2 linked regions of the Homo sapiens genome follow. The protein of the gene in region 1 purifies or fractionates together with the protein of each later gene. This does not show direct contact. Each region holds a gene or a part of one and is shown on either strand. Other genes may lie near its edges.

What was found.
Region 2: the proteins of ACOT12 (region 1) and TLR5 purify together in Homo sapiens (affinity purification with mass spectrometry; one large-scale study listed by BioGRID and IntAct). This does not show direct contact.

What each region holds. Positions count from the first base shown.
Region 1 is NC_000005.10:81,332,316-81,335,134, reverse strand, and holds part of ACOT12 (acetyl-coenzyme A thioesterase), read left to right. Parts: intron 1-2,529; coding exon 2,530-2,658; intron 2,659-2,819. UniProt on the Homo sapiens protein: Catalyzes the hydrolysis of acyl-CoAs into free fatty acids and coenzyme A (CoASH), regulating their respective intracellular levels. Preferentially hydrolyzes acetyl-CoA.
Region 2 is NC_000001.11:223,140,449-223,144,685, reverse strand, and holds the start of TLR5 (toll-like receptor 5 precursor), read left to right. Parts: upstream 1-1,437; 5' UTR 1,438-1,490; exon of another isoform or gene 1,491-2,025; intron 2,026-2,922; 5' UTR 2,923-3,038; intron 3,039-4,237. UniProt on the Homo sapiens protein: Pattern recognition receptor (PRR) located on the cell surface that participates in the activation of innate immunity and inflammatory response.

The DNA.
Region 1 (2,819 bases):
AATTCTACACTCTTCTACTTTAATATGCAACCTCATTGCTCTTGAGGAAGTGATTATCCAATTGTCCTGCATACTCTCAATATTTCATTGGCAGTTCCTTACTTTTCTGTGAAGCAACCCTCCCTGGTGAGAAGCTAAGAGAGCAAGCTGTGTGAGCCCCGAGGTGAAAGGCATGCCTTCCTGCTCCCCCTCCTGATGATGTCCCTGCTCCTATTAGCCTACATCTCCCACTCCTGCCACTCCCTGTCTCCTGCATCCCTAATCCAATCTCCTCCACTCCCCAGCCCTTTCCTGGAACACAGTACAGAGCTGTGCACCCTGCCAACTGCACTGACAGAGACCAGCTGCACTGGGGCCCAGCCACCTTGGCTATAGCACCCCGCAGGGCTTCATGGCCCACCTTGTTGACACGGAAGAGTTGATGAGATGGGCTTCCTATGTGTTAAGCGTTTCCTAATCTTGACAAGATAGAGGCTCATCTTCAAATTTTCTAAAACTCACTGTGATAGAGATTTAGAAATACCATGTAACATATGATTTAATACCACTAAAGTGAAACATCTCTGAGGTCACGTGTTACATTGGCACAGATGCTAGAGTTGAAATGGGAGGAGTTCCCTTATCCTCCTCATAGGGCCTGCGACAAGGGTGTGGCTTGTTTCTTCCGTGCTGCTCAAACCCCTAGAGGGATCATGCAGACGCTTAAGTCGCTTAAGTCGTGGGGAGTGTTTTTGAGCTCTGACCCCACGGCAGCATCTAGGGTTGACTGTTTATGGCTTCTGAAGCCCCGGTGGGTGTGTGTTACGATGCGCTCTTTCAGTTTTGCTGTCTGCAGGCAGCCTGTGTTAATCAGCTCGATCAGACCCTCTGCCTTATTGCAAGAACAGAGGGCTTTCTGTATCCTGGATTCTTGCGTTAGTGTACTGGAAAAAACGGCTCACGCGTGGCCTTGGAGGATGGGTGCAAGGTTTATTGAGTGGTGGAAGTTGCTTTTAGCAAGATGGATGGGGAGCCAGAAGGAGGATGGAGTGGGAAGGTGGTCTTCTTCTGGAGTCAGGCTGCCCAGCCACCAGACTCTCCTCTGACCACCCCTGACTGAATTCCATGTCTTTCCACCATCGATGGTCTGCCAGCGTCTGCTGGTGTCTGGCAGTGTGCTCCTCTGTTCCTCTCAACATCCAGCCCGCTAGGGTCTCGGGTTTTTTATGGGCACAGGATGTGGGGTGCAGTGGGCCAAAAGGTAACTTTTGGGGTGTGAAAACAGAAATGCCTGTCCTCATTTAGGTCTGTGGGCACAGGCCCGAGGGTGGAGCCCTCACCAGGGACCCTGCCCTTCCCTACCCAACATTTCCCTGCCCACCTCCTGTATCAGAATGATACATCGTGGTTAATGCTATCATAATAAATCATTCTGAGAGAAGAGGAACACTTCTCAATTTTCTTGCATCAATTTAGTAGATACTCTACCAGTACAAGCTTTTAGGAATAACAATGCCTAAACTTTGGTGTTATGCTTTAAAAATGTTTCTCCCACTATCTCTATGTCACTTGACATTCCAGCCAAATTGAAGTTGAACAAATTGGGGAGTGAATGAATGAATTCTAATCCAACTAACTTTTCTTGTACATGTACTATGATTCAGGTACTATGCCAGGTGTTTTCACTGAATCCTTGCAATAACCCCACGTATCATTATCTAAATTTTACAGATGAAAAAATCAAATGACTTGCCTAACGCAACTTATGTAGCGAGTAAGTGGCAATCTGGGAGTCAAAAGAAAGTTGTGTGACTCCAAAGCTAGTGCGGTTTCCAATATACCACATTTCTTTATCTATATAAACAATCCTTCTTGGACTGACTATATGATTTACCAGTCCTCACAATGTTTTTACTTGATCCTGGAGAAAAATAATTTTGTGTAAAACAGCTCAATGCCTTTCACTGAAGTATTGAGAATTATGAACTTGAAGTCAGATGGCCACCATCCTCTATCACTTGCAGAATTATTCCTTCTGATCAAAGAGCTCTTGCGTTTTTTGTTTGTTTGTTGTGGCTTTTTTTTTTTTTTTAAGATCTCACTGTGTCACCTAAGCTGGACTGCAGTGGCACAGTCATGGATCACTGCAGCCTCAACCTCTCAGGCTCAAGTGATATTCCCACCTCAACCTCTCGAGTAGCTGGGAGTACAGGCATGCACCACCACACTCAAATAATTTTTTAAAAAATTTTTATAAAGATAGGGTTTTGCAAGATTTTGCCCAGGTTAGTCCTGAACTCCTGGCCTCAAGTGATCCTCCCACCTCAGACTCCCAAGGTGTTAGGATTGCAGGCATGAGCCACTGTGCCTACCCTCAAAGAGCTCTTCTAAAGGCAGACTTGAGCAATAATGCTGGCTTTTAGGGAGATGATTAGGTGAGCTGAAGGGGCAAATATGGATACAAATAATGAGATTATGTAAGCAAATAAGGGAAGTGAATGCCTGAGCAGGTAGAAAGTATACCTGCTTTTCACTGTTCTATATACACAGGTCCTGTGAAGTCATAGACTGGGTGAGTGAAGATGATCAGCTGTATCACATCACCTGTCCTATACTGAATGATGACAAACCCAAAGACTTGGTAGTACTCGTATCACGAAGAAAACCCCTCAAAGATGGGTGAGTATATGCAGTCCAAGTGTTCTATTAATATTTCATAGTATAGGATAGAAATTAAAAGTTGATGTGAAAATAATGAAGTCTGTGTAGATATTTCTGCTCTTGAATTATGTTTATTTGAATTATACCTAGATGAATCTTTAGCTATTATTTTAAAAATT
Region 2 (4,237 bases), on another chromosome or scaffold:
GAAACCAGTGTCCAAAACCAGATGCCACCCTGGGGAGGGGGCTTTGGGAGTTCCTGGGAGGCCATAACACCGTCTGGAAGGCTCCTCTCTCCCACATATTCACAAAGTTGCATGATAAGCCAGGCCCCTGCTGGTCTTGCAGCATCCACCTATGATGCAGAGTAAACAGTGCCACACGTCAAGCTGTCCCCAACCTTGCCCTCGGTTCCACTACCAAAAGAGGGAACACTGGGCTTGCCCCAGCAAGGTGTTATTTATGTCAGGCTAGGGCCACTGTGGCTCCCAGCTCTTACTGCTTTCTAGGTGCCCTTACAGACTTCCCCACTGCCCCCTGCATATGCCAGAGTGTGAACATCCCCTCCCTCTCCACAGCCCCCACAGTGGGGTTCGGGTGGGCAGGGAGGTGGTTTCATCCCTCTACATACAGCCCTTGGAGACCTACCTAGGCAATTTGTCACTCAGGCTTCAAGCTGCCAGCCGAGGAGGGGAGCTGAGAAGACTCTATAATGAGATCTTTGCACTGTAATTAAGTGCCAGGCTTTGTTTTACACCTATCTTTCCCGCCTTGCCCGATCCCACCGCCAAGCTCCTCCAGGCAGTGAGTGGGGAGTGTCAGCTGCTCTGTGATTACACCCCAAGTGGCAGGTGGCAGGGAGCTCCTCCGCCTGCAGTCTGCGCCCCACCCCCAGGCTTCCCCCACCACCAGTCTTAACTCAAGACAGTGCTATTTCTGTCCTTGAACTGGGTTTCACCCCAGAAAGCCACTCCACCGCTTTCTCATAAGGCTACCTCCTTTTAACCCTGTGGTTGCACGGCCTCTGGGGTGTCCATTTCTTTCTTTTGACACGTCCCTTTTCCTGAAAGTTTCAGCAAACCCCATAGGCAGAGGGAGTTAGAAAAAGGAAAAGAGAAGTTAGGGCAGGAGGAGCACTGTTCTTATAGGACAGGAAGGGTCTGTCTTCTCTCTTGGGTCCTCCACACAAAATCGGAGCTTCCAAACACCCCAGCTCCCAAACATATGCAGCAGATTCTGCTGACAGGAATGTGTCACTGTGATCTTCACATTTTAGCCTGAAGTTTAGCCTACCTGAAGAAGCACCGGAGTGGGAGTGGGAGAACATGGGATGGTGCTTCTCTTTGGCCTGGCTGTGCTTTTGGACACTTCAGGTCTTCGGCCTGGGTTTCCTCCTCCGTACGATGAGGAGAGGATGGGAGGGGGCAATGCTGGCATGTGTGATCTCGATAGACACTGTGGAAGTCTGCAGAGACCGGAGCATAACCTCTGCCTCCTCTCCCCGGGCCTAGCCTCTCACAGCCCTCAGAGAAAACCCTGAGCTGCGGCGTGGCCGAGACGGGGGCGTGGCCTGGCAGGTGGGCGGGCCCTTCCGTGGGCGGGGCCGCGAGGTTTTCAGGAGCCCGAGCGAGGGCGCCGCTTTTGCGTCCGGGAGGAGCCAACCGTGGCGCAGGCGGCGCGGGGAGGCGTCCCAGAGGTGAGCGCCCTGCAGCGGCAGGGGATGGGCCGGGGGCCCTAAGTCGTAGGCAGCGCGGGGCGGGGACGCGGCTGCCTGCGGAGGTCGGACTCCTCTCCGCCCTCCTCCCGGGCTGTCCGGGTCTATTTTCCAGTCTATGTCCAACTCGCGCCGCCTCACTAGGCGGCGCTCTCTGCCCCGCGGCACCCGCGAGACGTGGGGTCCCTCGGCCCAGGGACGGGGTGAGCGTGTCATGTGGGTGCCCTGTGCCCGGCAGGTTGGAGACGAAGAGACCTCGGCACAGACGAAGTCACTCACATCCTCGCTTTGAAACAGAGCGGGTCCTTCTTGTGCTGTCTCGCTGTCACTCTCGCCCCCACCCTGTGGAAGAGGCAGGTGGCTTGTCCCCAGTCACTTTCTTCCTTGGAAAAGGGAGACAGAGGGCCATCTCCAGCAGGGCCATGGAAATCCCAGAAAGTCACTGAGCTGCTCAACAAAAGGCCCTAAACACCCCACCCCACAGCACCAGGCAGTGCACACTGGCCAAGACTCCGTGGTAAATATTGCTGGCCTTTATGTTGAGAGGGGGAAAAAAAAGCCTGCCTGTGAAGATCATTGCCCAGTGGCCATGCTCCTGTGAAAACACAATTGGAAAGCCATTTCCTAAGGGGCGAGGGTGGGTCTGGGACCATGCTGTGGCTTGGGTGATTGGTGGTTGCAGGAGTGAGGGTGCTGCCCTGGGAAGGCGCTGAGGCCCTGTTGGGTGGGAATCGACGGCTGCGGCTTTCTCCCGGAGGAGGGAGAGCGGTGTTGTTACCTAGTGTTGGGAACACATCCGTCCAGCACCGTGAACTGCAAACAAGCAGAGTAACCCTAGTGTCCTTCAGATACTGTTGCTGAGCAGTCACCTAGTCAATGAGATGATCTGTTTGGACGGCAAGTGCATCTGTAATGCCGCCCTCTTGCTCAGTGCCTGGAAGAGGCATTGGTGACTCCCCGCTAATGCTAGGGGTAGCTACCGTGCAGGAGCAGTCAGGCTCTTGCAGGGCCAATGTGGTTTCATCAATTTTCTCCTGCATTTACCCAGCCCCTCCGAATTCTGAGAAGTGCGTCCAAGATCTCTTGGACTCCTTGACTCAGTTCACCCTTGTTCTTGTGGGCAGAAAACAATTCCCAGTGTGCCATGCACAGCCAGTCAGAAGGGAAGCCCTGGAGCAGGGCCCTGGGAGAAGTTCTGTGGGGCTGGATGCTAATTATTCAGTTACTGGATTGTGGGGAAATTCCAGGGGAGGTCCCAGAGGAGAGACCGTGCTAAAGCTAATTACTAAGCAGTACAAAAATAATCTCTCTCTCTCTCTTTCTCTCTCTCTCTCTCTCTCTCTCTCTCTCTCTCTATATATATATATATATATATATATATATATATATATATGTAATTTTTTTTTTGAGACAGTCTCACTCTGCCGCCCAGGCTGGACTGCAGTGACACAATCTCGGCTGACTGCAACCACTGCCTCCAGGGTTCAAGCGATTCTCTTGCCTCAGCCTCCCAAGTAGCTGGGATTACAGGTACCCACCACTACGCCTGTCTAATTTTTGTATTTTTAGTAGAAATGGGGTTTCACCATGTTGGTCGGGCTGATCTCAAACTCCTGACCTCAGGTGATCCGCCTGTCTTGGCCTCCCACAGTGCTGGCATTACAGGTGTGAGCCACTGTGCTGGGCCAAAAATAATCTAAATTTCAACAATCAGCATGACCATGCCTGTGCGTATGACCCTAATTATCAGTCTGACTGATTCTTCCTTCCAAAATGATGGCAGAGGATCACCTCTTTGGATATTTACAGCTCTGAGCAAAGCAAAAAGCATGTAGGTGCCATTGTCTGAATGCAAAACCAGCCATGCCAGGTTTTCGGTGTTGTTTCTGAGGAGGGAGCGCCTCTCTGGAGGACGGTGTTTCCAGAACAGTGCCTCCGTTGTTCATTCCCGTGCATCAGGAAGTTTGGCTCTGCTGAGTGTTGAAAGCAAAACTCTCCTGTTTATTTGTCTCTGTATACTAACAGACTTAAACAGCAGACAGCACTGGAATGTCCAGTTACTGCATCCAGATGTGTTTGTTTCACTCTTAACATTGTGGAAAAGAATGCAGAAGGCAGATCCAAAGCTTCAATCAGATTTCTGAAGCTTAAGTGATTCCCAGCCTTGGTCCCTTAATGTGAGAGCAACAGCGTATAGTGTCTTCCGCTCTCTGGGACAAACCCAAGTTTGAGGCATAGTCCCTGCTGTCCAAAAGCTCCTAGGTCTAAGTAGGAAGACAAAACCAGCACCTGTGAAACAATTAGAGCGCAATTAAGTGCGAAAGTATGTGGCAGCATCTGCTAGCTCAAAGAAGACAGCTAGTGCAGACTGACTGGGAAAGGAAGAGAGAGCTTCACAGAGCCAGCTGGTGTTCAGCTTGACTTAAGAATGACCATCAAGGGCTTGGCCAGGCCTAGGAAAGGAAGCATGAGGATATATGAAGCTCAGAATAATGAAAGGCACTTGCTGCCCAGAGCCAATTCAAATTCCTGCCTTCCGGGAATTCTGGCTGTGGGTCCTGCCACTCTCTTCCTCACCCAGCCATGATGCCCTTCTTATAGCATTCTAACCATGCCTTTTTTTTTTTTTTTGAGACAGAGTCTCACTCTGTCACCTAGGCTGGAGTGCATTTGTGTGATCTTGGCTCACTGCAACCTCTGCCTCCTGGGTTTAAGTAATTCTCCTGCCT